Homo sapiens: one gene and its partners. The protein of the gene in region 6 purifies or fractionates together with the protein of the main gene of each other region. This does not show direct contact. Each region holds a gene or a part of one and is shown on either strand. Other genes may lie near its edges. The genes, in order: POMK, LNPEP, ACSL4, PICALM, PTPN2, FLVCR1 and MANEA.

What was found.
Region 1: the proteins of FLVCR1 (region 6) and POMK purify together in Homo sapiens (affinity purification with mass spectrometry; one large-scale study listed by BioGRID and IntAct). This does not show direct contact.
Region 2: the proteins of FLVCR1 (region 6) and LNPEP purify together in Homo sapiens (affinity purification with mass spectrometry; one large-scale study listed by BioGRID and IntAct). This does not show direct contact.
Region 3: the proteins of FLVCR1 (region 6) and ACSL4 purify together in Homo sapiens (affinity purification with mass spectrometry; one large-scale study listed by BioGRID and IntAct). This does not show direct contact.
Region 4: the proteins of FLVCR1 (region 6) and PICALM fractionate together in Homo sapiens (co-fractionation; one large-scale study listed by BioGRID). This does not show direct contact.
Region 5: the proteins of FLVCR1 (region 6) and PTPN2 purify together in Homo sapiens (affinity purification with mass spectrometry; one large-scale study listed by BioGRID and IntAct). This does not show direct contact.
Region 7: the proteins of FLVCR1 (region 6) and MANEA purify together in Homo sapiens (affinity purification with mass spectrometry; one large-scale study listed by BioGRID and IntAct). This does not show direct contact.

The regions. Positions count from the first base shown.
Region 1 is NC_000008.11:43,117,381-43,121,289, forward strand, and holds part of POMK (protein O-mannose kinase), read left to right. Parts: intron 1-3,909. UniProt on the Homo sapiens protein: Protein O-mannose kinase that specifically mediates phosphorylation at the 6-position of an O-mannose of the trisaccharide (N-acetylgalactosamine (GalNAc)-beta-1,3-N-acetylglucosamine (GlcNAc)-beta-1,4-mannose) to generate phosphorylated O-mannosyl trisaccharide (N-acetylgalactosamine-beta-1,3-N-acetylglucosamine-beta-1,4-(phosphate-6-)mannose).
Region 2 is NC_000005.10:96,977,417-96,981,615, forward strand, and holds part of LNPEP (leucyl-cystinyl aminopeptidase), read left to right. Parts: intron 1-1,721; coding exon 1,722-2,562; intron 2,563-4,199. UniProt on the Homo sapiens protein: Release of an N-terminal amino acid, cleaves before cysteine, leucine as well as other amino acids. Degrades peptide hormones such as oxytocin, vasopressin and angiotensin III, and plays a role in maintaining homeostasis during pregnancy.
Region 3 is NC_000023.11:109,684,449-109,688,647, forward strand, and holds part of ACSL4 (long-chain-fatty-acid--CoA ligase 4), read right to left. Parts: intron 997-4,199; exon of another isoform or gene 979-996; intron 1-978. UniProt on the Homo sapiens protein: Catalyzes the conversion of long-chain fatty acids to their active form acyl-CoA for both synthesis of cellular lipids, and degradation via beta-oxidation. Preferentially activates arachidonate and eicosapentaenoate as substrates.
Region 4 is NC_000011.10:85,999,264-86,003,462, reverse strand, and holds part of PICALM (phosphatidylinositol-binding clathrin assembly protein), read left to right. Parts: intron 1-11; coding exon 12-97; intron 98-2,304; coding exon 2,305-2,428; intron 2,429-2,683; coding exon 2,684-2,820; intron 2,821-4,199. UniProt on the Homo sapiens protein: Cytoplasmic adapter protein that plays a critical role in clathrin-mediated endocytosis which is important in processes such as internalization of cell receptors, synaptic transmission or removal of apoptotic cells.
Region 5 is NC_000018.10:12,877,516-12,881,714, reverse strand, and holds part of PTPN2 (tyrosine-protein phosphatase non-receptor type 2), read left to right. Parts: intron 1-4,199. UniProt on the Homo sapiens protein: Non-receptor type tyrosine-specific phosphatase that dephosphorylates receptor protein tyrosine kinases including INSR, EGFR, CSF1R, PDGFR.
Region 6 is NC_000001.11:212,895,871-212,900,158, reverse strand, and holds the end of FLVCR1 (choline/ethanolamine transporter FLVCR1), read right to left. Parts: 3' UTR 796-4,288; downstream 1-795.
Region 7 is NC_000006.12:95,601,177-95,605,375, forward strand, and holds part of MANEA (glycoprotein endo-alpha-1,2-mannosidase), read left to right. Parts: intron 1-3,650; coding exon 3,651-3,727; intron 3,728-4,199.

The DNA of each region.
Region 1 (3,909 bases), on a different chromosome or scaffold from region 6:
GAAGTGGATCCATCATCCATCGCAAACGTCTTTATCCTTGGTTTTTTCACAGTGAGTGGGCTGAGGAGGAGGAGGAAAGGAAGAGGTTGGTCTTGGTATCCAAGGGGTGGTAAAGGCAGAAGAAAATCTGTGTGTAAGTGGAACTGCGCAGTTCAAACCCGTGTTGTTCAAGGGTCAAGTATATATAAAGAGCTCCCAGTAATTAATAAGCACAAGGCAGACAACCCTATAGAAAATTGGATAAAGGACAGTGAACAGACTTTTGACAGCAGAAATACAGAAATGCCTAAAAAGATGACAAATGCCTAGCCTTATTAGTAATCAGGGAAATACAAATTAGAAGAGTAAGGTATTTTCATCCATTGATTGGCACAAATTACAAACAGTGGTAATAATCTGGTGTGACTAAGGGTGTATTCCTAAGATTCTATCATGCGCTGCTGGTGAAAGTGCATGCTAGCACAGACTTTGGAGGGTAATGATGGCAATAGATATTTGGTAAATTCTGTCTGCCTACCTAGCTTATAAAATATTTGTGCATGTACATAGACATGTAAATATAAGGCTATACACTGTAGCATTGTCATTAGAAAAGGGACTAACTTAAATGTCCAGGTCTTTAGAAATAGATCATATAAGATCTTATTAAAGGTCTTTACAAAATTATAGCTACATAATAATCTTAAGAAAGAATCCAGTCTATTTTGACAGCATCAATTCCAAATTCCTGGTATTTTTATTATATTATACTTTAATTTTAAAGAAAAAAGGTAGTAGTATCTGTAAAAGCTTACTGGAAATACACAAGTGTAGGTATTATGCCCACACTATGAAACATTACTCAGCTTTAAAAAGAATGGCCTAGATCTACATGTATATATGGAAAGGATTTCTGAGGCTCAGTTAAATGAAAAAAGAGCTGCAATGTATGTATGTTATAACGCCATTAGTATAACAGCAAACCCAAATGCTGTTTTACAAGTGTACATTAATAAATAAAGGCATAGAAAAACTTCTGGGAGGATGACAGCCAGTTACCAGGTTTCCTTTGGGTCGGGAAGTAAAACTGGGGGCAGGGAGACATCCTGCCTATCCTCTGTATTTGAGTTTTTACCAAGAAAAGTGTTCACGATTAATTTTATAATAAAAAAGTAAAGTATTTTAACTGTTCTTTCCAAATAAAAGTCTTTTAGAAAATGATTAAAAGCAACTAAATTAGAGGTTGTGAGAAATGATTCTTAAACAGTCCATGACTAGCAAATTTTTTATATTGGAGGATTCAAATATTTGTGTGTGATCTCAAAGACTAATAGTATTTCATAATAATATTTAATAATCTTCATTTATCTGAAACAAAAATGAATGAGACACAAATGAGGGATCAGGAGCCCTGGGGCCTGTGGCTGAGCCTCCCCAACTTACTGTTTTTTTTGTTGTTGTTGTTACGGAGTCTCGCTCTGTTGCCCAGGCTGGAGTGCAGTGGCCTGATCTCGGCTAACTGCAAGCTCCGCCTCCACGGTTCATGCCATTCTGCCATTCTCCTGCCTCAGCCTCCTGAGTAGCTGGGACTACAGGCACCTGCCACCATGCCCGGCTAATTTTTTGTATTTTTAGTAGAGATGGGATTTCACCATGTTAGCCAGGATGGTCTTGATCTCCTGACCTCGTGATCCACCCGCCTCGGCCTCTTGAAGTGCTGGGATTACAGGCATGAGCCACTGCGGCCGGCCCCCCACTTATTGTTGAATGTGTAGCAGCAGCTTCCCAAAAGCCAGCATCGTTTTTAGGTGAAAAATGGGCCTAGAAAACCAAAGCCATTGCCAGTTCTGGTGGTGACCATGCAGAGGTGGGCGTAAGGAAGCCATGGATCTGAACAAAACCTCAGTTGTTCGTATTAGAGCCAATTATCAGATTCAGTGGGATGCAAATCTATGGAGAGCGTGTGTTCAATATGAAAATTTAAAAAAATCTTGAACTTTTAGAATGTGGTCTTATCTAGTCCTTAAAAATTAGGAAATTTTTAGTGCATGTAGCAGCCAGAGTGAAAAACAGCTTTTTTTTTTTTTTTTTTTTTTTTGAGACGAAGTCTCTAACCAGGCTGGTGTGCAGTGGTGTGATCTTGGCTCACTTCAGCCTCTGCCTCCTGGGTTCAAGCAATTCTCCTGCCTCAGCCTCCTGAGTAGCTGGGACTGCAGGCGCGCGCCACCACGCCCAGCTAATTATTTTGTATTTTTAGTAGAGATGGGGTTTCACCATGTTGCCAGGCTGGTCTCGATCTCCTGACCTTGTGATCCTCTTGCCTCGGCTCCCAAAGTGCTGGGATTACAGGCGTGAGCCACCGCGTCCGGCCCAAAAACAGCTTTTTAATAGAAGTTATTATCCTTAGTGAAATTTCTCAAATATGAGGATTAGAGAGTCTTGAAAGAGTTTTCATTTGAATGTTATGAGCCAATCAAAGTTATCTGGGTTTTTCCATAATGAACCTCCCTTCTTAGATCCAGAAAAGATCTTCATGGTCCTTGGGTCTAACTCCATTTTATATAATATTTCTTTTTCTTTTTTTTTTTTTAAATTCCCAATGTTAGTTTTTCTGAAATTTTATATATTTTTGAGTTAAAAAATTTAAGTTGTAAAAGTAATATATGTTCATCTTGGAAAATACCAAAAGATATGAAGGAAAAAAAAATCACCCAGAATCTTACCACATAAAGACAACTAAGGCATTAGCATATTTCCTTTGATTTCCATGTGCTGTAATTTAAATTTGTCTCGTTTTATGCAGTTGGAACAATATTATACAAATGGTTTTGTATACTTCTCATTTGTAACATTGCTTTTTTTTTTTTTGAGATGGAGTTTCACTCTTGTTCACCCAGGCTGGAGTGCAATGGTGTGATCTTGGCTCTCTGCAACCTCCACCTCCTGGGGTTCAAGCTACTCTTCTGCCTCAGCCTCCTGAGTAGCTGGGATTACAGGCATGCACCACCATGCCCGGCTAATTTTGTATTTTTAGTAGAGGTTTTAGGTTTTAGGTTTCGTCATGTTGGCTAGGCTGGTCTCCAACTCCTGACCTCAGGTGATCTGCCTGCCTTGGCTTCCAAAAGTGCTGGGATTATAGGTATGAGCCACCGCACCCAGCCGTACCATTACTTTTATCTGTTATAACTGTATAAATATATACATTTTGGTGACCGCATGATATATATATATATTGAATGATCCTCCCACCTCAGCCTCCCCTGAGTAGCTGGGGGTACATGTACGCTCCATTACACCCTGCTTGTTTCTTAATTTCTTTCTTTTTTTTTTTTTTTGAGACAGAGTTTCACTCTTGTTGCCCAGGCTGGAGCACAGTGGCGTGATCTTGGCTTACGGCAACCTCTGCCTCCCGGGTTCAAGTGATTCTCCTGCCTCAGCCTCCCAGGTAGCTGGGATTACAGGCATGCACCACCACGCCTGGCTAATTTTGTATTTTTAGTAGAGTCAGGGTTTCTCCATGTTGGTCAGGCTGGTCTTGAATTCCTGACCTCAGGTGATCCACCCGCCTTGGCCTCCCAAAGTGTTGGAATTACAGGTGTGAGCCACCACGCCTGGCCCACCCTGCTAGTTTCTAAAAAATGTTTTGTAGAGATGGGTTCTCACTATGTTGATCATGCTGCTCCCATCTTTTGATAAGTTTCAGTGTATGCTTTTATAAATAATGTCAGATTTTTATTCCTGGAGCTTCTTACCTATTTCCGATTATTGCCTTAGATTTAGATGTTAGAGTCTCTTGATAAATAATGCAAAAAACTGCTTTGGAAACCATAACCTTTATTTGAACAATGACATGGCACACTGCTTGCAGAATGAGCCTGGGGCAGGAATCTCCTGAGTCCTGAGCCTGCTTTCTCTTTTGTAATCTTCTGC
Region 2 (4,199 bases), on a different chromosome or scaffold from region 6:
TAAGCAGTTTGGGATGGCCAGAGCATACTCAGGAATGGTATTTAGTGCTGGCTGGGATCTGACCATGGAAGATGCTTATACCAGTGCCTCTCAAACTTAAGTGCACGTGAGCACCCGAGGATTTGTTAAAATTCGTATTCTAGGTGGAGACTTCAGAGGCTGCGTTTCTAACAAGCTGCAATGTGATGCAAATGCTGCAGGGTCACAGGCCACACTGAACAGCAAAACTGCAAATTTTATCCTAATATTTATCAATAATATGTTTTATGGATGAAGAGTTTCCACCATTACAGTGTTTGTTGAATAGCACAAAATACATAGCATTTATCTTAAGCTAGATATTCAGTAGTTTTTTGTAAGCTTTGCTCTCCTGATGGTGAAATAATACTCTTAGCAACTTCATTGCCAGGTATGAAATAAATAATTCAGGGCTCTCATCTTTTATTGAATTAGTTTGAGTAGAGGGATGCAATATAATGAAAAGAGCATAAACTTTTGAATCAAATTTTTAGACCTGTGCTTTAATATCAGTTTTATGACTAAATAGCTGTGTGACTTTATGAAGACGAATTAATCTATTTCTCTTTTTCTATTTTCTCATGTCTAAAATAGAATACTTGCCATTTTATAGGATTGTTGTAAGGGTTAGAAATGATAGGTATAAAGTATCTTCCCTTGTAGGGAAGATTAGTGGAGGTTTCAATTTGATAACTTTTGAGATCCCTTAAAAACTAAAATTGTATGAATTTTAAATAAAAAACATTGAACGATCTAATCCTAGGAAGTACTGATATATGGGGGATTATCGACCCTTCTACTTCTAGAGTCTTTTTTCTCAGTGATTTTGGCAAATCGGAAGGTGTGGTTTGTTGTAGTTTGTAAAAGCTCCCACTGAGATCCACTAACACTCATGGTGTGCAGTATGGTTGTTTCCCATGGAAATATGTTGTACTTCTGAAAGCCATGGAAGCATGAAAAACAGATTGAATTATAATTTTATCTGACTTTTATTGTCTTTTGATCTTTTTAAAAATCATTTCTTGCTTATGGAAATTTCCCATATAATTTGCTGCTTCCCATTTGCTGTGGGACAGAAACATTCCTCTTTCAGGGGAAAACAATAACCCATCCTGTTGCTTAGCCATACTCAATCTTAGAAATGGGCATACCAGCTTGTGGTGCTCCCTAGAGAGAATGAGACTCAGGGATGAGACCCACAAATACCTTGGAAGCAGATTTGAGGCCTGTTGGACAGAAATTCTGGGATTGCAGTGCCCAAACCCTAGAAGGGGAACCGTGGACTGTAGGTGGGCACATCCCTTTGATCCTACTGACTCCTCGCCTGGTGGGGACAGACATAGTCAGAGGAATGCCAAAACAGTGCCCTCTCAAGCCCAGGGCAGGGTCCCAGGTTGTGGGGCAGGAGTATATTAAGGAAATTAGTATATTATCTCAGCTAACTTTTTAAAAATATAATAGCCTGTTTATTTAGCTTTCTTGTTTCATAACTGTGGTATACTTTTATTTATGTTTTAGTTTTTAATGGATGACTCAATGGTATAAACATCTTATTTAATTCAGTAGCTCTGAGATGGAAATAAGTCTTAGTGACTTAAAAAAATTCTTAGTTTAAATGTGGTCTAGGTAGAAGACATGTTATTAATATTATGAGCTTTTTTTTTTCTAACTCTGTGCCTTGTTCTTATGTTTTGGTTTTTTAGATCGGCTTCAGCTCCCCAGGAATATGATTGAAAACAGCATGTTTGAGGAAGAACCAGATGTGGTGGATTTAGCCAAAGAGCCTTGTTTACATCCTCTAGAGCCTGATGAGGTGGAATATGAGCCCCGGGGTTCCCGACTGCTGGTGCGGGGTCTTGGTGAGCATGAGATGGAGGAGGATGAAGAGGATTATGAGTCATCAGCAAAGCTGCTGGGCATGTCCTTCATGAATAGAAGCTCAGGCCTTCGGAACAGTGCAACTGGTTACAGGCAGAGCCCAGATGGGGCTTGTTCAGTACCCTCTGCAAGGACCATGGTGGTCTGTGCTTTTGTCATCGTGGTTGCTGTTTCTGTAATCATGGTGATTTACTTACTGCCCAGATGTACCTTTACCAAAGAAGGCTGCCATAAAAAAAACCAGTCAATTGGACTAATTCAGCCATTTGCAACAAATGGGAAATTGTTTCCATGGGCACAGATCAGGCTTCCCACTGCCGTTGTGCCACTACGCTATGAACTCAGCCTACACCCGAACCTAACCTCGATGACATTCAGGGGTTCTGTGACAATTTCAGTTCAGGCTCTTCAGGTCACATGGAATATCATTCTTCATAGCACAGGTCATAATATTTCAAGAGTGACCTTTATGTCAGCAGTTTCAAGCCAAGAAAAACAAGCTGAGATCCTGGAATATGCATATCATGGACAGATCGCCATTGTTGCCCCCGAAGCCCTTCTAGCAGGGCACAATTATACGTTGAAGATAGAGTACTCGGCAAATATATCTAGTTCTTATTATGGGTTTTATGGCTTCTCCTACACAGATGAAAGTAATGAGAAAAAGTAGGTAGCCCTCTTAAATGATTCTGGTTTTACGCTCTGATAACTTCTGCAATATAGATCCCTTTGTCCACACCAGAGACACGAATTGTGATTTTTTTTTTTAATTTAGGAAGTTATATACAAAATAGTAGAATGGTGATTTAGAACAATATATTATCTCTCTTAGTCAACGCCTTGAGCATATATCATGGTGGGGTGGAGATAGGGGTGTGCTGGTGGAAAAGGATGGATAAAGATTATATCCAAAACTTGTTATCTTGAGTTTTTCACATTTTTAAGGTGAATCTAGTTTTCTGTCACCTCATGAAGTCTGTTGGGAAGCAGAGTAAAGAGGAGTTATTCTTTAAGACCTATTTTCCTAATGTGCAGAACTTTTAGGAGGTACTTAGTGAAATACAGAAAGAGGGCATGAAGAAGTGTGAAGTGTGGTGTGCTTACATATATCATTTTTAATATCCTTAATCTTTACTGGTTTATTATTTTTTAAAATGCCAGTCTATTTTGGATTTCTGGTGTAAATTTTTTTTAAGGTCTAGGAGAGACTTAATTTGGTTCAGAAAAAAAGGTGAGACAAAATATAAAATTATTCAGCTCCCTATTTGGACTATATATTTAGTACTTTAATCTTAGCATTCATAGCATGTAGTTTGAAATTCTGGGAAGATGGAGTTCACACAGTATGGAGGTTATTCTTAAGTAGCAGTGATATCAGTTGTCTTGTGCACAAAATCCTCACGACATCTGCTTTATGCAATTGGAACATTCTCTCATATTACTCTGTAAAACAATATGTGAATTACTGATGCTGACCATTTGGCTAATGTATGTTGACATATTAAGAGAAATAGTTAGAAATGAGTATTCTACATCTAAAGGAAACTTTTTGATCCTTCTTAAATGGAGAAAGAGACCAAGCAAGATCCATAATTCTATTCAGATAAATAATTTTTATTTTATTTTCCCTCTATGTAATACTTTTAAAATAAATGGCATACTGGCCCTGCATTTCAATTCTTGCGTGAGATCTGGGATTGAACACAAATGTATAATTGCAATGGGAACTTGAAAGTTCTTGCCTTTAGTTCTCCTTCTATAATGCCTATTATCCCCAGGAAATGTAAGCTATGTGTAAAAACAAGAAATACATCCCTTAATTACTTTATCTACCAGTATAAATATGTATTCTAATCATACCTCAGAGAAGAAAAATTTATAAAAGCTTCTCTAATAGAACTAAGCAAAATTAAAAGAGAGAAAGACAAAAAAATGGCTTTGAATTATAGTTTTCAGACATCTTGAAAGGTATAAATAATCTAAACATTTACCTGGAATCAAGATATACTATCACTTGGGGGATTCATTTTACTGATACTTTTATTTTGTTTTGAATAGCAGAGTTTCACGTACTAATTTATTTTAATAGGTTGTAAAATACTGTTTTATAATACTCTATTTCTTAATCTTAAAGAAACATATTTCATTTTTCTGACATTTTCCACAACTCAATCCAGCCCATGGCAAGAGTCAACAAGTGGCCGTACCAAAAATCACCTTACTCTGCTGTATTTATTCCTCCCATTAAATAGTTAACGAGTACAAGGATTCCAGGGTCAATATTCTGATGGGAAGAGATGGCT
Region 3 (4,199 bases), on a different chromosome or scaffold from region 6:
CCATCTCTTCTAATAAACACTACTGGAAACTGCCCATATATAACACTAAAGTGGAGTTGCTCTGGCCAAAACAGGGTTTGGGGATGTCCAGAGTCCTGCCCCAGAATTCCCGGAATCCCAACTCCCAAGGTGACCACTAAAGCATTTCCACTGAAAAGCCTTGTGGTAATACATAACTAATACATAACTACCATGTGCAGTGTAGGCAGTAGTATAAGCAATAAATGCAAAAGGAGTTCAGAGGAAGTGCAAAATGGCCAAGAGTAACTAGGAGAGGCTTTGTGGAGATTAGATTTAAGCTGGACCTTATGTTGGGCATCTAGAAATGAAAGAGGAATGGAAGGTATTCCAGGCTCAGGGACCATATGAAAAAAGATACGAAGGTGGGAATGAAAGGACTTTGGGAGAATAGGAAGTACCAATAGCAAGGACACTAGTCTGACTGGGGCACAGCATACACTAAATACGCTAAATACGCTTGACTAAATACGCTACGGTAGTTACAAAATCTAACAAATCAGGCAAAGTAATTTTGATTGGATTATGTGGAAAGCTGGGGGCTGCTGCAGGTTAGAAAAACAGTGCCATTGGAAAGAAACCGCAGAAACAGGCTCAAGAATAGTAATATTTCTTTTCTTTCTTTTTTTTTTTTTTTTTTTTTTGAGACAAGGTCTCACTTTGTCACACGGGCCAGAGTGCAGTGGCATGATCTCAGCTCACTGCAACCTCTGCCTCCCGGACTCAAAAGATCCTCCCACCTCAGCCTCCCGAGTAGCTGGGAACACAGATGTGCATCACCATGCCTGGCTAGTTTTTTTCCATTTTTTGTAGAGACGGGGTTTTGCCATTGTTGCTCAGGCTGTTCTCAAAATCCTGGACTCAAGCTATCTGCCCTCAATGGCCTCCCAAAGTGCTGGGATTACAGGCGGGGGCCACCACACCCGGCCCAAGAATAGGAACATTTTTTAAGGAGCTTACCTTCAACTGAGAAAGCTACTTCGGTGAGTTGTAGCATATTTCAACCAGAAAAATCAAAATATTAGTTCACTTTGAAGAGACAAACTGAAGCCCATCCTTCTGCAACTTTTGTAGAAACAGACTGACAGACTTAATTCAATTGACCCCAGGCTAGTTGATTGTTTTTATACCATCTAATATAAAATGGTAGCTTAATCCTGCCTGTGCCTTTGTTCATGTAATTTAGTTGAGTACAGTGAAATGAGAAAGAAACTGGAAGTCACTGGGTGTCAATCCTCATCTCTGCCCCTAACTGGCTGTGTAACCTTGAGCAAACCATCTACCTCAGTCTGGGACCACACTAGATCAGCAGGCCTTAACCTCTTAGAGATGATGGGCCTTTTTGAGAATGAGAACGAGGAACCCAATTCCCCTCAGAAAGACATGCTAAATGATACACACAATGTCAAGTGATTCACAAGTTCCTTGAAATCCATCCATGAACTTCAAAGGGCAACAACCCTGAACTAAAAATGTCTGGCCTAGGTGATTCTTAGGGCCTTTCCAGCTTTAAATTCTATGACTTACCCTACTTGGAAAGTACCTTCTTAGTCTCTCGGACAAGTCTGGTCATTCATTTCTTCAAGATAAGGTATGTCATGTCAAGGGTTTATCATAATGCTGAATGTAAGATCCCCTCTAACAATCCTCTCCTCCCACTGAAGATTTCATGGCTACCCAAGTCCAGAACAATCTTTACTTTTTCTAATTTCACACATCATTAGCAATATCTACCACTCAATCTGATACATGATTATACTACCATCACTTCCAAACTTCTGGGTACCACAGTATAGAACACGGACCAGTAGTTCTCAACCATATCAAACCCAGTACCTCTTTCTTATGACAAATATTTTGTGATACCTCTTCATCAACATCAAAGGATAGTCATAATCTACCAACACACCATTTTAAAAAATGATTTCTTACTGGTAATATAAAAGAGTACCATAAAGAAACTAATTTAAAATTTAACAAAATACTTGTTTCAATACATACATTCTCAGAGACAATATTAGCAGACATAAAAGCATGTCTTCAGATTTATAAAATGCCCCTAAGGGGTGAGTACCACCTTACCCTCAATTGAGAAATCTTCAGGCTTAAGGCTGAAAATATATAAAGAAACAGAAAATAGCTTTTGAAGAGCCTGTACTTTAGTTGGATTTAAAATGCATTGTATGTTTTTTAGTTATTGATGTTACATAAATTTAATCTTTTATACATATTTGCCTTAAGTCTTAGAGAAAGAGAAATGCTTTCTAGGTAATCCTCATAGTGCTTAGTACAGACACACACACACGCATGCACACACACACACACACACACACACACACAGTAGGCAAGGCTCAAAGAACATTCAGGTGAGAAGAAACCAGAGAGATCATTTAGTCTAGAGGTTTTCAAATTCTTTCTGCAGGTAGTGAGGGGGTCATGGGTCATCCATTTGAATAAAATCTTATATAGATATAAAAACACAAGCGTAGATGAAAGCAAAAAGCATAGCTGCTCTGGTAGAGGAGGCTATGACAGCCCCTGAAGGGACTCCTTGGAACTTCCAGTTCAGCTGAATATTTGAACCACTGATATTGTCTGAGCCCTCATCTTACAGAGAAGCAAATGAATGGCAGAGCACAAATCGAGCACCCAGTGCTCTTTCAAGTACACTAGCCAGCCTCTGCCCAGTTTTGCCTATCATCTTAAACTATAATACTTCCTTGTCAGGGGTTATACTCAGTCTATTGATAAATTCATTTCAAAAAAGATTTAAACATTTCATTTCACTTCAAAAAAAGAAGAGTTGGTGGTAAGGGTATGATGCTGAGCATCGTACCCATCATTAGGCAAAATATAATGTCTCATAAGAGAAACAACAAAAATTTTCTAGGCTAACAGATCTGGGTTTAAAATGTGGTTCTATGCAGCCATAAAAAACAATGAGTTCATGTCCTTTGCATGGAGATGGATGAAGCTGGAAACCATCATTCTCAGCAAACTAACACAGGAACAGAAAACTTAACACTGCATGTTCTTACTCACAAGTGGAAGTTGAACAATGAGAAAACATGGACACAGGGAGGGTTACATCACACACAGGGGCCTGTCAGGGGATGGAGGGCTAGGGGAGGGATAGCATTAGGAGAAATACCTAACGTAGATGATGGGTTGATGGGTGCAGCAAACCACCATGGCACGTGTATACCTATGTAACAAACCTGCACGTTCTGCACATGTATCCCAGAATTTAAAGTATGATTTAAAAAAGAAAGCTCTATATTAGTGGCTTCATCTGTAAAACAGGAATACTGCTTATATTACCTACTTTATAGTGCTTTTGTGAGAAACCTTTGTCTTCTTCCTCTTAAATTCCATAGGCAATCATACTCAGTCCCTCTTGGTTGTCTCACTTGGTTGTACTTAATCATCTCAACCACAGCCTGGTTCTATCCTATCCAATTCTCCACCTAATCTGTACCTGTACCTATGCAGCTGAATTTGCTGTGAGAAACACATGACTGTGTTGAGTGTCTCACTTTAAACTTGTGATTGCTACCTCAAATGGACTCTCCCTGATGCAGAGAGACCACACCGCACTAGTCCACTCACTGGCCCACTCCTCTGGATTTCATACTTTACTCTCTTCAGACCACCAACATTCCTCATCCAGACTTATTCTCAGCAGCTGACCTATTTTGCAGACAAAACAGCAACAATCCAAAGATAATTTCCACAGACTCTCACTGCTACATCTACCCACCTAATCAAATCTGTGGCCACATGCTGTTTTCTCTCCTGTGACTATGGATGAACTGTTGATGCTCCAAGCTGAGGCCAACCCCTTCATTTATGCATTACACCCTGTCTTTATAAGGACACGGAAGTGCTACTCTACCAATTCTTCCCTCTCGTCCTTCCTCATTAATTTTCCCTGCTCTTCTGAACTATTCCCTTCAGCATCATAACCAGCTGTTATTTCTTTCATCTTAAAAAACATTCCCTCCTTTGCATCTTCTTTTCAGCTATAGCCCATTTATTTTCTATCTCTTTGGCACTCCTTGAAAGAGGTGTCTATGGCTCTCTGTCTCCCAGTTCTCTCCTATTTTCTCTTGAACCCACTACAATCAGGCTTATGTCTCCTACCACTCTATAAACTTGTTCTCCTCATCAGGGTCTCCAAT
Region 4 (4,199 bases), on a different chromosome or scaffold from region 6:
TACAATTGCAGGCCCCTAGCAGTCTTCTTGATGCTTTGGAACAACATTTAGCTTCCTTGGAAGGAAAGAAAATCAAAGATTCTACAGCTGCAAGCAGGTATATCATTCTTTGTAGGCCAAAAAGCCAGAGTGATTTTTCTGAGGCAGTAGATGAAACCAGCTCAAGTTCCAAGCTGTTTAATTTCTCTATATCTTGATTTCATTTTCTATAAAATGGATTTAATCATAATATCAGCCTCATAGAATTAGTATTAGGATTAAATGGATTAATACATGCAAATTCTTGAAATTGTTTCTGACCTTCAATAAATGTCAGCATCTGTTAAGATAATGACAGTGACTGCATAGTTTAGAATTGTGTTTATGATGTCAAAATTTCTCCTAAAGATGCTAATGCATTGTTTTATGTGGTGCTTTGTAGTTATAAGATACATTTTTTTTTTCTTCCCCCGAGGCAGAGTCTCACTCTATTGCCCAGGCTGGAGTGCAGTGGCACAATCTCAACTCACTTGCAACTTCCACCTCCTGGGTTCAAGCGATTCTCCCACCTCAGCCTCCCAAGGGTGGGACTACAGATGCATGCCACCACGGCCGGCTAATTTTTGTATTTTTAGTAGAGACAGGGTTTCACCATGTTGAGCAGGCTGGTCTCGAACCCCTGAACTCAAGTGATCTGCACACCTCAGCCTCCCAAAGTGCTGGGATTACAGGCATGAACCACCGTGCCAGGCCTATAATTGCAAGATACTTTCGTATTAATTTGCTCAATCCTCACAATAGCCCTGTGAAGTATGTAGTAGCAATGCTGGGACTCAAACCTAGAATATCTGACATCAAATTGCATCATCTCTGCCTAATGCCAGTTCATGGGGTTGATTATTGATATTTTATATTTTAATCACTTTATTATGTTTTAAGCTAATTCCTCAGACTAAGACCATTTAACCTAGCAAATTGAAAGTAACAGAAATCATTTCATATCAGTCTGGTAACATGATTTTTGTATTGGGTTAAGAAATTACTTGAGTTATTCTCATGTTTTCTTATGAACCTTTTTTTAAAACAGCATGAAGAAAGAATTTGTATAGTGAGAACCTTCCTTTGGTTCTTTTTAGACTTTCTGGTTGTTTCAGAACTTTTGATCTTTCTTTTAGTAATAAAATTTAAATAATTTCCAAAGGGAAATGCCGTTATTGGATTTTAGTACTCATTTTTAATCCTAGATTTGTACTTTGAATTTTCTAGTAAGATTTTCGAAGTAGCAGTCAAAACAATAAGTCTCATTTATTTGAGAGAATAACGAAAAAAAGAGCCACGTAGTTCAGGTGCACCAATTTACCTGAAATGTTTATCATAAAATTTATTGGTTTTCTTGCATTTCTGTCACAACTATGTTATTCTTCCTTTGTCTTCTGAATTGTACCTTTTTATTGGCTTATTTATAATACTAATATTACATAAAATTTAAAAGGTAGTTTTTACCACTTTACGTGCTTAAGAGTAGAAACTAATGATGTTTGGTGTGTGGTAAAAGGAAAATTAATAAAGCTCAAGGTAGTTCTTCAGGTTAGAATTCTTTACCACTTGTTTTACTTAGCCTAGAGTTAACATTTGGAAAGTTAATGTTGAGGTTTATAGTGTGGATACGTTTTTGATAAAAGGGAAAGGAGGTGCCTTGCCAGTGAAAAATGATACATTGTACATGTATATTAAAAAGGAAATTCTGGTTTGGCAAAAGGGCAGCACATAGAAAGATGCCAAATGGCCTGATGACTAGATTGAAACCAGTCTTCTTTTGAAGGAACCTGAAGTCCTCTGGGGATGTTGTTATAGGTGAAACATACCTAGACTTACGTTACGTGTTACTGGTATGCATGTTTTGGTGTTCCTGTGGCACTGCCGAAACGTAGGCTGTAAATTAGCAGAGGGTTTTCCCTGTGATAAACTCAACACTTTTTCCCATCAGGGATTTTGTGGGATTATGTGGGCTCTTTCCCAATTGCACTGGTTTCCTCTCTTGGGGCTTGGAAGAGGCAATGTGCCCCACTCTGTTGTGAACCCTTTCCAAAGTCAAACACTTACTCTGAAAGCAGTGAGTGTATATTAAGTCAAGATTTTTCTAATTGCTTTAATCCTGTAGATCACTAGGTAGAATATTTCATCTGAAGTACTGGATTTGAATCCAGAAGTTAAGTTTATAATTATAGTGCCTATCCATGGCAAGGTTGCCAGACCATTTCATGACCTGGGTGTAATGTGAAGTGTTTAGCAAAAAGCCAAATTATCTCTGTTCAATTATCCTAGGGCAACTACACTTTCCAATGCAGTGTCTTCCCTGGCAAGCACTGGTCTATCTCTGACCAAAGTGGATGAAAGGGAAAAGCAGGCAGCATTAGAGGAAGAACAGGCACGTTTGAAAGCTTTAAAGGTAAGTTTGTGCATTCTCCTTATTTCGAAAAATGAGTACAGGTGTTCATTAGGTAAATGGGGCCTCTGCACAGACTTAGAGTCTTAAATGTATAGCTACCTAATGGGCTGAAACTCAGTCTAACTTTTCGTCCTGACATAGAATTAGGTAAAACAGAATATCTGCTATCAGAACAAATTAGAAAATGCTTTTTTCAGAGGCTGTACAAAGAAATCTGGTTTCTGGAATCCTTATGGTAGTTCCCTTTCTTAACAGGAACAGCGCCTAAAAGAACTTGCAAAGAAACCTCATACCTCTTTAACAACTGCAGCCTCTCCTGTATCCACCTCAGCAGGAGGGATAATGACTGCACCAGCCATTGACATATTTTCTACCCCTAGTTCTTCTAACAGGTAGGAGTAGAAGTTAAGGTTACCTTTGAATATGTAGGTTCAAAGACTTCTAATAGAAATTTTGCAGAACTTTTCAGGTTTACTTTTATTTATGCTTTTATAATCTATTCACACAAAGAGGTGGCGATAAATGGTGATATTGGTATAATACCTAAAGATAAAGTGATGAGTTTATATTTTACGTATTTACGAAATGGAAGATAGTTAAATCACTGATTTATACTAATAGGAATATAGCTGTTATCTCTGGGCCAACTTTTCATTGTGTAAAAATTATGATTAAACACATTTATGAGGCATCTAATGGTTCAAGACCCTTTATAGCTCTTTGACATATGGATATGATATATATTTCAAAATACCATTTCATTAGATATTAAACGTCTGTCATATCTGTTTCCTGGTTTTAAACTCTGTAATCTGGAACACAGTGACAGAGTTTAGTTGCCAGGTTTCTTGGTATTGAAGCCTACCAGACTAACTTTAATAATCTTGTTGTCTAATTTAAGCTACTTAACATGGAAATATAATATTGCCAGGTAAAGTAAAACAATTGGCATTTTCTGAACCTCAGAGTGGCTTAAAGTAGTTTTAAAAGTCAGATTCTGGTTTGAATCCTGGCTCTGTTAGTTCTTAACTTTTTTTGAGAAACCTTGTTTTCAGATGAGACTGTGGTTCTCAACTTTAACATCAGAAGCATTTGGAGAGTTTATTAAACTACAGATATCTGAGTCCCAATCCTAGAGTTTTGATTCAGTAGGTGGGGCCTGGGGCCCAAGAATTTTTGTTTTTAAGATGCTCCCAGGTGACTAGGTTTTAGCACAGTGCATTATTAGCACATGTTAAATGTTCCATAGAGAGTGGTGAGTTTTTTCCTTTCACTTTGTTGTTGCTGTTTATTAACTCACCCTTAAAAGCTCATCTGCCTGCCTACTGACTCCTAATAGCTGAGCCTAATAGCTCAGTGTAAGTTTTACTACGTGAACTGCTTGCTGTATGCATGCTCAGTTGCTACCTGCTCCCTGAAATCTTAGTAGGTGTTTGTTGAATTTAGTTCTTTTTTTTCTTTCAGCTTTATGATTTGTTTGCTCATGTATGCTACCTTCTTTAATCCCCAGTTAAGTAACATTGACCCCATTAAGGGGCAAGTTCTCAACATGGAGATCTTGAAAAGAAGTCTGTCCTAGGAGAAAGAAGTGAAAAGAATGTTCATTGTTCGAGGCTGAAACAAATTATTGGATAAAGAACTAATTTCACTATGTTTTATGTCACATACTAAAAATTTTCACCTTTTTAATAGTAATTAAGGGCAAATCTTACAGCCCATTTACAGAATTATTATTGTATATTCTATATGTTCCCCAAAGCACTAAATGCGT
Region 5 (4,199 bases), on a different chromosome or scaffold from region 6:
GAGGGAGGACCTCACCTAAGTCTTGAAAGACATTGGCCAGGGGAAGAGGACAAGGGAGGTGAAGAGAATTACTGTTCCAGCAAGGAGGGAGTGCACAAAGGCACTGAGGGAATGCTGAGAGAACCACCCACAGTTTAGCCTGGAGACTGGTGTGAAGTTGAGATGCTGGAGAGTAAGGCAGAGCCTAGATCAGACTAAGGAATTTGAGCTGTTTAATAGGAACTCATTGTGGAATTGTAAGTCTGGAAATACCATGATCATATTTGCTTCTTTTTTTTTTGACAGAGTCCCGCTCTGTCGCCCAGGCTGGAGTGCAGTGGTGCGACGTCAGCTCACTGCAACCTCTGCCTCCTGGGTTCAAGTGATTCACTTACCTCAGCCTCCTGCGTAGTTGAAATTACAGGCACACACCACCATGCCCGGTTGATTTTTTTGTACTTTTAGTAGAGACAGGGTTTCGACATGTTGGCCAGGCTGGTCTCGAACTCCTGACCTCAGGTGATCCGCCTGCCTCGGCCTCTCAAAGTGCTGGGATTACAGGCATGAGCCACTGCTCTGGGCTGATCATATTTACTTGTTAGCAAGATCGTTCTGACTGCTAGCAGACTGGATGAGGAAAGTGTAGGCACGCAGCACAGGGCAGTAGTCGGTTGGAGTAAACCTGAAGAGACATGATGAGCTTCTGTTAGGCAGTGGCAGGAGGGATGGAGGGGAGATACAGATTTGAAATGAAATGGTAAAGGGGTATACGTTATGTACAAGTTTGGTTTTGAAACTTTAATTCTGTTTGAGGTACCTGCGAGACACTGAAATGAAGCTAGTTGAATGTATAAATTTGGAGTTCGGGAGAGAGGGTCTGAGTAAATGTGATTTTGGAAATCATGAACACATGGGTGATATTTGAGGTCTTAGACATTGATGAGATCATCTAGGGAAGATACAGAGCGTTTGGAAATATCAAAGGCCAAGGACAGAATCTTGACAGACAACATTTAAAAGGATGGGTGGAGAAAGAGGAACTTGCAAAAAAGACTGGTGAGGAACAACCACAGAAGTGGGGAGGAAAGCAGTGGAGGGAGTTGAGGGTGAGCAGGGCCACCTGACAGGTAAGGGCCAGCCTGAGAGGGCCATGACATTGAGCAGCTAGATTAACAGATACCTTAAAGGGAGTTGTGTCAGCGGACTACACAAGACAGATACCTGGAGTTCAGGAGAGAAGGTAGGAGGAAATGCAAACTACCAAGTGTACACTGCTCTTTTTAGAAGCCCAACTTGAAGAAGTGGGGAGAGGTAGCTAAAATGAAGCAAGATTGTGTGACTTCTCACTTAAACCCTTGAACGGCTTTCCGTTGCTCACAGTGTAAATTCAGCCCCTCCTCCGGCTCACAAGACCTCATGGCCTGTGTCTCTTGCTTGATTTCCCCTATCACTTTCCTCCCTCTTTTCCACTGTGTTGTATTCTTGGAAGTGTGTGTGTCCATTCTCCCCTTAGGGCGTTTGTAAATGTTGTTCTCTTTGCCTTGGCACAACTTTCCCCCCTTCTCTTTCCTTTCTTGCTTAAACTGCCTCCTACTCATCCCTGAAGTCTCACTTCCTTGGCAGGCCTTCTTGACCTGCCCATGCTGGGTATGAGCCCCTGTTGCGTACTTCTTTAGCATCCCAAGACTTCCCCTTTCATAGCGGGAATTGGATGTCATACAGCAGCAAATGATTTCGGGAACACAATTTGCATTAAGCAAACCACTATCTTGAAAGTAACACAGCTTGAGTAGGAAAAAAGTGTTTAAGGTGGCTTTCTGCTTTGTTTAGCACAGCAGTGGGTGATGTTTCTGATAATGTTTTTGAAGAGTTGTGCTTTTTTTGGTAATGCTCATGGAGCTGGGAAAAGAAAGGCTTTGCTCTTGAGCAAAAACTGAGTACAACTAAAAGCTGGACTTGCTTAGTGGTAGGAGAACTTGATACCTTGTTGAAATTCTAGCGGGAAAAATGAATTTAGTATTTTGAGTCTGGAACTCTGGTCCCTTATTCCTTTTTGCTCCTTTTGAAAAGTGTCTTTTATTTCATGAGTTTGATAATAGGAGGTTTCTTAGAAATGAATTATTGGGTTGGAGCAGAACAGACTCTGTTAATCTGAGTTTATATTTTTTATTACTTCTTCAGAGTTTCATGAAGGCACTGCCAGTGCTTTGCACAGTATCAGGTGCTTAGTAAGCACTTGAAAATATGTGCTGAATGAATGACTTTTTACGAGGAAAGGGCAACTTGATATATTTATGTGATTGCAGGGATGAACCTAAAGAGAGAGGTGGAGGTTGAAATAGAAGGGATGATTGTTGGAGCCAGAAATCTTAGAAAGCAAGAGTCAATGGGACCAAGAGCACACAGGTGGAAGAATTGATCGTGAAAGAGTGCTGGCCAGGCGGTGGCTCATCCCTGTAATCCCAGCGCTTTGGGAGGCTGAGGTGGGAGGATCACTTGAGGTCAGGAGGTTAGGGCTGCAGTGAGCCATAATTGTGCCACTGCACTACAGACTAGGTGACAGAGTGAGATCCTGTCTCTAAAACAAGAACAGCAAAACAAAGGGTGCAGTTGGAAAAGTTTAATTTGGTCTGATTGTGTGAGGTTAATTCTGACTTTTTGAGTAATGTTCATGATCCCTTTTTGGCTTTTCCTTTTGTCACTGCTGATTGCTGTCTTCATCAGGCTGAGCTTTGAGAAAGGCAGAGAGAAGGAATGGAGTCTGTGTGCCTACTGAGGAAAAGACTAAAACTGGGGAATCGCAAAAGCTATGTTATGGGTTGTTTCTAAGAAGTGATGGCTCAGAAGGAATTTGGCTTATTTATTTTTAAATTCCTTTCTTTTTTAAAGAGTTCTCACTCTGTTGCCCAGTCTGGAGTACAAGTGCAGTGGTGCAATCATAGCTCACTGCAACCTTAAACTCCTGGGCTCAGGTGAGCCTCTCACCTCAGCCTCTTGGAAATTGGTTGATTAATTAGGGTTTATAAACAATGGAACTCCTGACTGACTTCATTTTTCTTTTTTTGAAACCAAGTCTTGCTCTGTCCCCCAGGCTGGAGTGCAGTAGTGTGATCTCAGCTCACTGCAACCTCTGCTCCCCCCAGGTTCAAGCAGTTCTACTGCCTCAGCCTCCCGAGTAGCTGGGATTACAGGTGCCCACCAGCACGCCCAGCTAATTTTTGTATTTTTAGTAGAAACGGGGTTTCACCATGTTTGTCAGGCTGGTCTTGAACTCCTGACCTCAGGTGATCCACCTGCCTCGGCCTCCCAAAGTGCTGCTGGGATTACAGGTGTGAGCCACCACGCCCAGCCACATTTTTCTTTTTCTTTCTTTTTTTCCTTTTTCTTTCTTTTTTTTTCTTTTTCTTTCTTTTCTTTTTGAGACTGGGTCTCACTTTGTCACCCAGTCTGGAGTGCAGTGGCGTGATCTCAGCTCACTGCAGTCTCGACCTCTTGGGCTTTAGACATCCTCCTGCCTCAGTCCCCCACGTAGCTGGGCCTGGCTAATTTTTTTGTATTTTTTGTAGAGACAGGGTTTAACTATTTTGCCCAGGCTGGTCTTCAACTCCTGAGTTCAAGCAATCTGTCCACCTCAGCCTTCCAAAGGCTTAGGATTACAAGCATGAGCCACTGTGCCTGGCCATTTTTCTTTTTTCTTTTTCTTTTTTTGAGACAGTCTTGCTCTGTTGCCCAGGCTGGAGTGCAGTGGCGTCATCTCGGCTCGCTGCAAGCTCTGCCTCCCAGGTTCACGCCATTCTCCTGCCTCAGCCTTCTGAGTAGCTGGGACTACAGGCGCCCGCCAACACTACAGGCGCCCGCCACCACGCCAGGCTAATTTTTTGTATTTTTAGTAGAGACGGGGTTTGACCGTGTTAGCCAGGATGGTCTTGATCTCCTGACTTTGTGATCCACCTGCCTCGGCCTCCCAAAGTGCTGGGATTATAGGCATGAGCCACTGCGCCTGGCCGCCATTTTTCTTTATTAGAAATTTGTAGTTCAAATATTGCTAGAGAACAATTTTTACCATTTGTGAGTCAGCTAATTTTTAGAAGTCAGATATCAAGTGCACACTGTTCTTCTCATACTTACAGCGGGGCAGCCAGTTAGGCAGGTGAATCAAAGCTGTCTTATTCTAAAACACTTCCCTTGCCTACTAGTTACACATTCTCCTGCCTGCTGTC
Region 6 (4,288 bases):
ATTTGATGCTTGCAGTTGCCATCCAATGTGGCATGCTTGGGAAGCCAGCCTCAGGGAGATGGGGGTGAGGTGCACAGAGAATTTGGGGTGGCCATGGGTCATGTGGGAGGTCCATATGCAAGGTATCCCAGTGGCTGGTGAGGCTTCCTGATGGAGTCTGTGGAGTGCTGAGTAGGTTTCAGAGCCTTTCTTCCCTGCTCCCAGCCTTTCCCAACGCTTAGCTATGACAGTCACCTCAATATTTTAATTGGAGCAAGAAAGAGGTAGGGTTCTTAGGCAGCATCCCACACAGCTAGGGGCTGAGCACTCTCACTATGCTATCACCTTCTCCCATGGGAGAAATTGTGGACTGAGGGGAGTCTCTCTTGCCACTAAGCTGTGCCAACTTCAAAGAGTGATGCAGATAAAGTGAAAATCTTCTTCTTCCTTTTCTTTAATGCATTTATTCTCAGATATTTCTGCTCCAATGGTGTGCTGGAACTTCCACGTAGGACTTCTGGATTCCTACAAAAGAACTACCATCTGAAAGTACTGGTAAAAATCAATGCTTCTGTGGAAGAATGATGATATAAAGCTCCTATTCTGCCATCTTGCTAACATCACTCTCTAAAGTTACTTTTAAAGGAATAAAATATTTTAGTATCTATTTTAGCCCTGACCCTGGTAGACTTTGTTTCCTCATTTTATGTTCCATGCACTACCTCATTCCCTCTTTGCCCATTCTGAAATTTTATAATCCCTTTAAACTCCCCATGTGTACCTAAGCATCAGAATTTTTCAAAAAGTCACAGAAAATTAACATAAAAAAATAAATTTATTTTGAGTCTGAAATACTGAAGAACAAGCATACAGATAAATAGTACAAAGAACAAAAATTAGAACATGAGTAATGACTTAAGACACAGGCATTTTTCTAGCTATTGCATACAGACACATTTTTACACACAAACATATTTTTTAAAGACATCTCTCCAACATTCTCAAAAGGCAAGAGCTGTATTTGTGACATTTGTAATAAATGCAACAGCTTTTGAAACATCCAGTTTCTTTCCTAAGTCATTTGATTAAAATTCACACAAGTGATGATTACCTATTCCATTTTCTGAAAATACGACATACAGTCATGTTTCGATCAACAATTGACCACATATGACAGAGATCCTATAAGATTATAATGGAACTGAAAAATTCCTATCACCTAGTGATGCCACAGCCATTGTTACATTGTAGCACAATGTATTATCTGTTCTATGTTTAGATTACACAGATACCATTGTGTTACAGTTGCCTACAGTATTCAATACAGTACCATGCTGTACAGGTCTGTAGCCCAGAAGCGACAGACTTTGCCATCTAGCCCAGGTGTGCAGTAGGCTCTACCACCTAGGTTTGTGTAAGTACACTTCATGATGTTCACACAATGATGAAATCACCTAATGACAAATTTCTCAGAATGTAGCTCTGTCATGAAGTCACACATTACTGTAGAATTATAACATTCTTGCTTGACATATTACAGACAACTTTCACTCAAAATACAGAAAAATTATCAATTCATTTTGCATTGTCACATATTCCATCACCTTTCTAATCAACAAGGAAAAATAAACATAACATATATGTATATGCTTTTCAGAAATAAAGTATTCTAAATTTTATGTGTAATTTGTTCCAAACCTCAGGAACTCAACAAGTACATGATTATTTTAAACAACATTGATAGTTTAAAAATAAAAACATTTGGGGAGAGACCTTAAAATATATTTTTGGCCGTTTTTACCTGTAATGTAAATATCAAAGGAAGCTAATGATTGGACATACTCTGCTTGAGTTACCCTCAACTGACTAAAAAGGCTAAAAAGAAATGTAAAAGTCCGTTGTATCCATAAGGTAGCAATCACATTTGTTTATCCAATTGTCCAGGGAATTTTTCTCTGGCTGGATTCAAGTTCCTGTGATACAATAATTTGGTCTATTCCATGATTAATGGCATTTAATATTTTGGAAAGATCTTTGAGATCAAATTGAACACATTCATTTCATGGATGAGGAAAACGCTGCCCAGAGAGGTTTAATGATTTGTCCAGAGTTATAGGAACATACAGAAATACATCCAGGACATGGACACAGAGTTCCTGATTCTTAGTCAAATTCTTTAGATAACACATTCCCCAGGGTCAGATTCGACATAATTTACAGTCACTTGATTATAGAGAATGTTATAATTTCAATATATATCAATGCATATATTCTGCCTGATATAGTTGGGATACTTGTCCCTCCAATCTCACATTGAAATGTAATCCCCAATGTTGAAGGTTGGCCCTAATAGAAGGTGTTTGGGTCCTGCGGGTGGATCCCTCATGGCTTGGTGCTGTCCTTGCAGTAATGAGTGAGTTTTCACAAAATCTGGTTGTTTGAAGGTGTGTGGCACCTCCCTGCTCTCTTGCTCCTGCTTCGCCATGTGACATCTCTGCTCCCACTTAGCCTTTCACCATGAGTAAAGCTCCCTGAGGGCTCCCCAGAAGCCGAGCAGACACTGGTGCCATGCTTACACAGCCTGCAGAACTGTGAGCCACTTAAACCTCTTTTATTTATAAATTACCCAGTCTCAGGTATTTCTGTTCTTTTTTTCCTGAAACAGAGTCTCGCTCTGTCACCCAGGCTGGAGTGCAGTGGCGCAATCTCAGCTCACTGTAGCCTCCGCCTTCCAGGTTCAGGCAATTCTCATGCCTCAGCTTCCCAAGAAGCTGGGACTACAGGCGTGTGCCACCATGCCCGGCTAATTTGTGTGTGTGTGTGTGTGTGTATGTATTTTTAGTAGAGATGGGGTTTTGCCATGTTGGCCAGACTGGTCTTCAACTCCTGGCCTCAAATGATCCACCCACCTCAGCCTCCCAAAGTGCTGGGACTATAGGTGTGAGCCATCGTGCTCAACCTCAGGTTTTATTTATTTATTTATTTATTTATTTATTTATTTATTTATTTATTTGAGACAGTCTCACTTTATCTCCCAGGCTGGAGTGCAGTAGTGTGATTTTCGCTCACTGCAACCTCTGCCATTCGCATTCAAGCGATTCTCCTGCCTCAGCCTCCTGAGTAGCTGGGATTACAGGCGCCTGCCACTGCGCTAATTTTTGTATTTTTAGTAGAGATGGGGTTTCACCATCTTGGCCAGGCTGGTTTTGAACTCCTGACTTTGTGATCCACCTGCCTTGGCCTCCCAAAGTGCTGAGATTACAGGCATGAGCCACAGCACTGCGCCTGGCCTTTTTTTTTTTTTTTTTTTTTTTTTTTTTTTTTAGTAGAGATGGGGTTTTACCATGTTGGCCAGGCTGGTCTTGAACTCCTGACCTCAGGTGATCCACACGCTTCAGCCTCCCAAAGTGCTGGGATTACAGGCGTGAGCCACCACGCCCAGCCTAAATATTTCTTTATAGCAATGCAAGGATGGCCTAACACACTGCCTAAATCAAAATTGCTATTCACTTCAAGGGTATTCATTACCTGACTAGCTTTTTTGGGTGCATATGAACATAATGTAAATTTTATGGCTGATCAAATGTCATTACTATGAAGATACTCCCTATGAGCTCACAGAGTCAGGACATCAACAATATTTAAACTCTCACTGTAAACATGACACAGTGGTAGGCACTGTGGAAATATATTTGGTCCTATTTTCCCTACCTGAGCATGTAAAAGAGCAGACTATTCTAACAGTGTGATGACTCTGCAGTGAAGAAAAGAATCCACTCTCCCGGCACACTGATAGAGCATGTACCTGGGCATAGTATTCCTCAAAGGAGAATGGTCATAAAAATGATACTGCAGAATTCAAATAGCATTCAAGAGGTCTCCACTAAATGGGGACATGTAGGCTATCTGAAGTTATTATAGATTTCCTTATTTCAGGAATCTTCAAGGCAAAATATACGATGTGATACATGAAATCATGAAATAGCCAGTAACATACATGATGAAATTATCTTACTAGAAAGTTACACATCAGGAAAAAAAAAAAAAGAGAGTTTAAAAGAAAAAAAAGGCAATGGGTACAAAACTACTCTATCTCAAGTTGGAGTGAAAAAATACAGCGTTAGCATTTATCCATGATAGAAAGGCAGCACAGAAAAGAACTCAAGACAGAATGAACCTGTAACCAGGCTCCTTAATTAGAACATAATTCTAAGACCAAAGTCTGGGTAGAATCTGTACACAGAATAGTTTTTATAGCCATTGACTGCATGTGTTAAAAAGTACTTTGTAACAAGAGTACAATAAATGG
Region 7 (4,199 bases), on a different chromosome or scaffold from region 6:
TCATTTAGTAGGCTGGTTTTGCAGAGAGTGTAAAAATCAGGGCTGGATTCCTTCCTCTATATCCTGCACCATTAAGAACACAGCAACGGAACAATTTTTTGAGTAAGACATGACAGAAATATTTGGTAGATTCCGTCATTGTTTAGCAAATAATCTGGTTTTCCTTCCCCTGCATGCAAAGAGTAAGTATACTTCCTGCCCTGTTGTTGTTGGGTTTGGCCTTATGGCTTGCTTTGGCTGATGAGATGTGAGAAGAGATAATGTATACTATGTGCTTGCATGATTATGCTCTTATTCTCTTTTATAAGAAAAGCATGCCCCTTTCTGCCTAGGACTCAGAATGACAGACACGTGGAGCTGATTTGAACCAGCCTGGAGCAGAACCATCATAAGCCAGTTCATAGATTTTATGTTCGAAAAGCAAATGTTTGTCTTTTAGAGCCACTGAGATTGTGGGGTTGTTACATGGCATTATCTAATCAAAACTTGACTGAATTAAATCATTCATCTAAGTAAAAGAAAATTAGGCAGATTCAGTGATTTTTTTTTTTTTTTTTTTTTTTTTTTTGCTTAGGATTATAGGGGAAAGAACCAACTCAGCCCTGGTGATCTTCTTTCATTTTAATAAATTTAGTATGTTATTTTAAAGTAGCATATTTTCTTTCTACTTTATGCAGAAATCACATTTCTTATACTAGGTTTATCAACATCCATTATTTCTTTGCATATGGCTCTAGAGTCATTTTATCTGCTTTTCAGGCTTATGCAGATTTCAACCATGTGAAACATGAATATAAGTATGTCCGTGATTCTTTTTTAAATGATTTTCACCTACATTTGAAACATGTTATATTAGTCATGGCCTCTCCTTTTTCTTTTTCCTTGTTAAATGAATATTGTGAATTCATGGCAGAAACTTTGGGAATCTTACCTAAATCCAGTATAAGTGACAGACTTAAGAGTTTAACTGTTGTTTGTTTTTGCATGCAAATCATTAGTCCATTTATTTATGCATGCATTCATTCATTTAGCACCTGCTACGTGTCAGATACAGTCCCAGATGCTGACAATATTAAGAAGAAGGATGAAGTATTATCTCTTTCCCTAAAATGCCTTGTAATCTACTGGAGGTCAGACACAAAGACAAGTAAATTTCAGGAAGAGAAAAGTATGAGGTATTATGGCACCACATAGGAGTAGGAAGACCTACCTCAATTTTGTTGTGGCAGGGGATAGGGGAGTGTGCAGGGGTGAAGGTAGAGAATAGAGTTGGAGAAGGAGAAAGTTATCAGATTTTCATTCAAAAAAGTTCATTTTATTAAAATTTATTTATTAAAGTTATTAAAATGCAGGGTAGGGAAGAGACAGGAAAGGTCAAAATTAAAAACATGAAATGAGGGAATGTTTATATTCTTATTCTTTAAAGATAAGAAAGACATTTCATTTTATGTATAGAATTCTGTTATTTTAAAATTTATTTTAACATTGATCTAATTGATTTTTCCAAATGGAATAGAGAGATGGAGACTAGATCACATCATTAATTAAAATTGCAAAGTAATGGCCGGGCGCGGTGGCTCACGCCTGTAATCCCAGCACTTTGGGAGGCCGAGGCGGGTGGATCATGAGGTCAGGAGATCGAGACCATCCTGGCTAACAAGGTGAAACCCCGTCTCTACTAAAAATACAAAAAATTAGCCGGGCGCGGTGGCGGGCGCCTGTAGTCCCAGCTACTCGGGAGGCTGAGGCAGGAGAATGGCGTGAACCCGGGAAGCGGAGCTTGCAGTGAGCCGAGATTGCGCCACTGCAGTCCGCAGTCCGGCCTGGGCGACAGAGCGAGACTCCGTCTCAAAAAAAAAAAAAAAAAAAAAAAAAATTGCAAAGTAATTTTATTATAATTAAGAAATTAGAAATACATGAGGGAAAATTTTAAATATTTTATACTTATCAATACTATATTTACTTTAAATATATTGATCTGCGCTTTACAAAAATAGCATGCTATTTGTTGTTTGCAGCTGTAAAAGCAAATTCATTTTGATATAGGATATTTCAAGTTGGATATTGCTTAAATATGGTGTCCTTTATGTATAAAATGGAAATTTAGAAAACACAGTGATGTAACTGAAGGAAGAATTACCCAAGGAAACATTATGTAATAGTATGAAAATACCTATACACTAGGCAATTTGCTTTCAACTGAATTTAAAAAGCAAATACCAAAGTTATTGAGAAATCTAGCTGCCCTAGCAGTTACTACCCTGGCAATACTAACAATATGCTGCAAAAATTAATTTGACCTTAGTTTTTTATGACAGAAACTTACTTTTATAATATTACTGTAATCTCATTTAAAGTAGAAAATTATATTTTTTTTAAATATTATTTAACTTTAAAATTAATTATGTGAAAACAAGTAGCACTGATTAATGTAAAATACATTTTGCTTTAATTGGGTAATTGAAAACAGAGGAGTTTCATATTGCAATAGAAGTCTCTAGTTCCATAAATACATCATAGAGCCTGAAACCTAAAATTAAAACAGTATCAATACATTTATTAGACTGCCATAAAGATTTTTAGTTGATGTTGGTAAGTCAGTAAAACTAGGAATAAAAGTGAAAATCCTCATTCTTTGTTTTATGAATCTGAAATAGATTGTCATCTAAGAGAAGTATCTTCTGTATTTTTTACCTTACTAGTTAGAAGTAGCATACAGAATGGTTTTACTAGCCATAATTAGTTTGTCTTGATTTATGTATAGCCAACCTTAAGTTAAAAAATTTTAGTCTGTGCACAGTATTTTAAAAATATTTGTAATTACTGCTCTCTATGTTTACATATATATATATAATGTATGTATGTGTGCGTATATATGTATGTAGGTGTGTGTGTGTGTGTGTGTGTGTGTGTGTGTGTATGGGATATCCAAACCATAAATACCTAGGCATCATGAAAAATGTCCTTTATAACACTAGTGGATATTATTTTTAAGCGATTTCATTATAAATTCTTTAATAGAAGTTAATGTATATTATTTTGTAAAATGCTGTTTTAATGATATGGAAGAATTTATATGTAAATAAATTTGCTAATGACTTCTATTTAAATTTAAGCTTAATGGTCACATGCCTGAAAAAAATCCAGATTTTTCTGGACCATATTTTTTTGGTCTTTTTCCTAAAAGAAACATATATCTGAATATAGAGTATTTCCTATATATATTATATGGGATACAAATATGTAAGAAACATTTTTATAAGGAGTAAACATAAAAAGAAGCATTGCACAGCAGTTAAGCATTTGAACTCGGAATTCAGATCATCAATATTACCTCCAACAAACTGGGTGACCTGGAACAACTTACTGAACCTTTCTTAAGGTTCTGTCTATCTTTGATTACCTCACTAAGAAAACAGAAATACCTTAGGGAGTTGTGAAGATTAACCAAGATAATAATATAAAATGTTTAGCATGTTATTTAGCAGTAAATTTTATTGGTAAAAATTCTCTGGTAGTTTCTGTGTTCAATAAATATTCATCTTTAATTAAGGTGATTAAATCAGTTACTTTATTAAATATATTAAGTATACTTCTAATTTTACATTATAGATAATTTATCCCCTAACTGATTTTATTGTTTGTTTTAGGTTACTTTTCACATAGAACCATATAGCAATCGAGATGATCAAAACATGTACAAAAATGTCAAGTATATTATAGACAAGTGAGTTTCTTCAATATTTATAAATATTGTTATATTATCCAGTGATAATTATTGTTTTAAGAATAGTACATTAAATTATATTTGAGATTTGAATGATTTATGATTATTCCATTTTTAATAAAATTAAATTGTTATTGTAATGAATGTCACCATCATTTCGAAGAACATTGCTGAAGTTTCTTATAATTCACTTTCTTTTTGGAAGATTGCTGTTTTTACTGTTTTACAGGTTTATAGGCTATTTATGATTTCTGTAGTTTTGATATTTTAAAATGACATTATTTTCTAAACCTTCAGAATATAGCTTTATCTTTTTAAAAAGAAGGTTCAGATTATTAAAAGTGAACTACTTCTTTTAACACAGTAGACCCAGAGCTGATATTTTCATTTATATCTAGCCTGATCAAAAAGAATTTATTAATACAGTTTTCATTTTTTGAAAGAATTTTACTGATAATAGTCTGTGACAGAT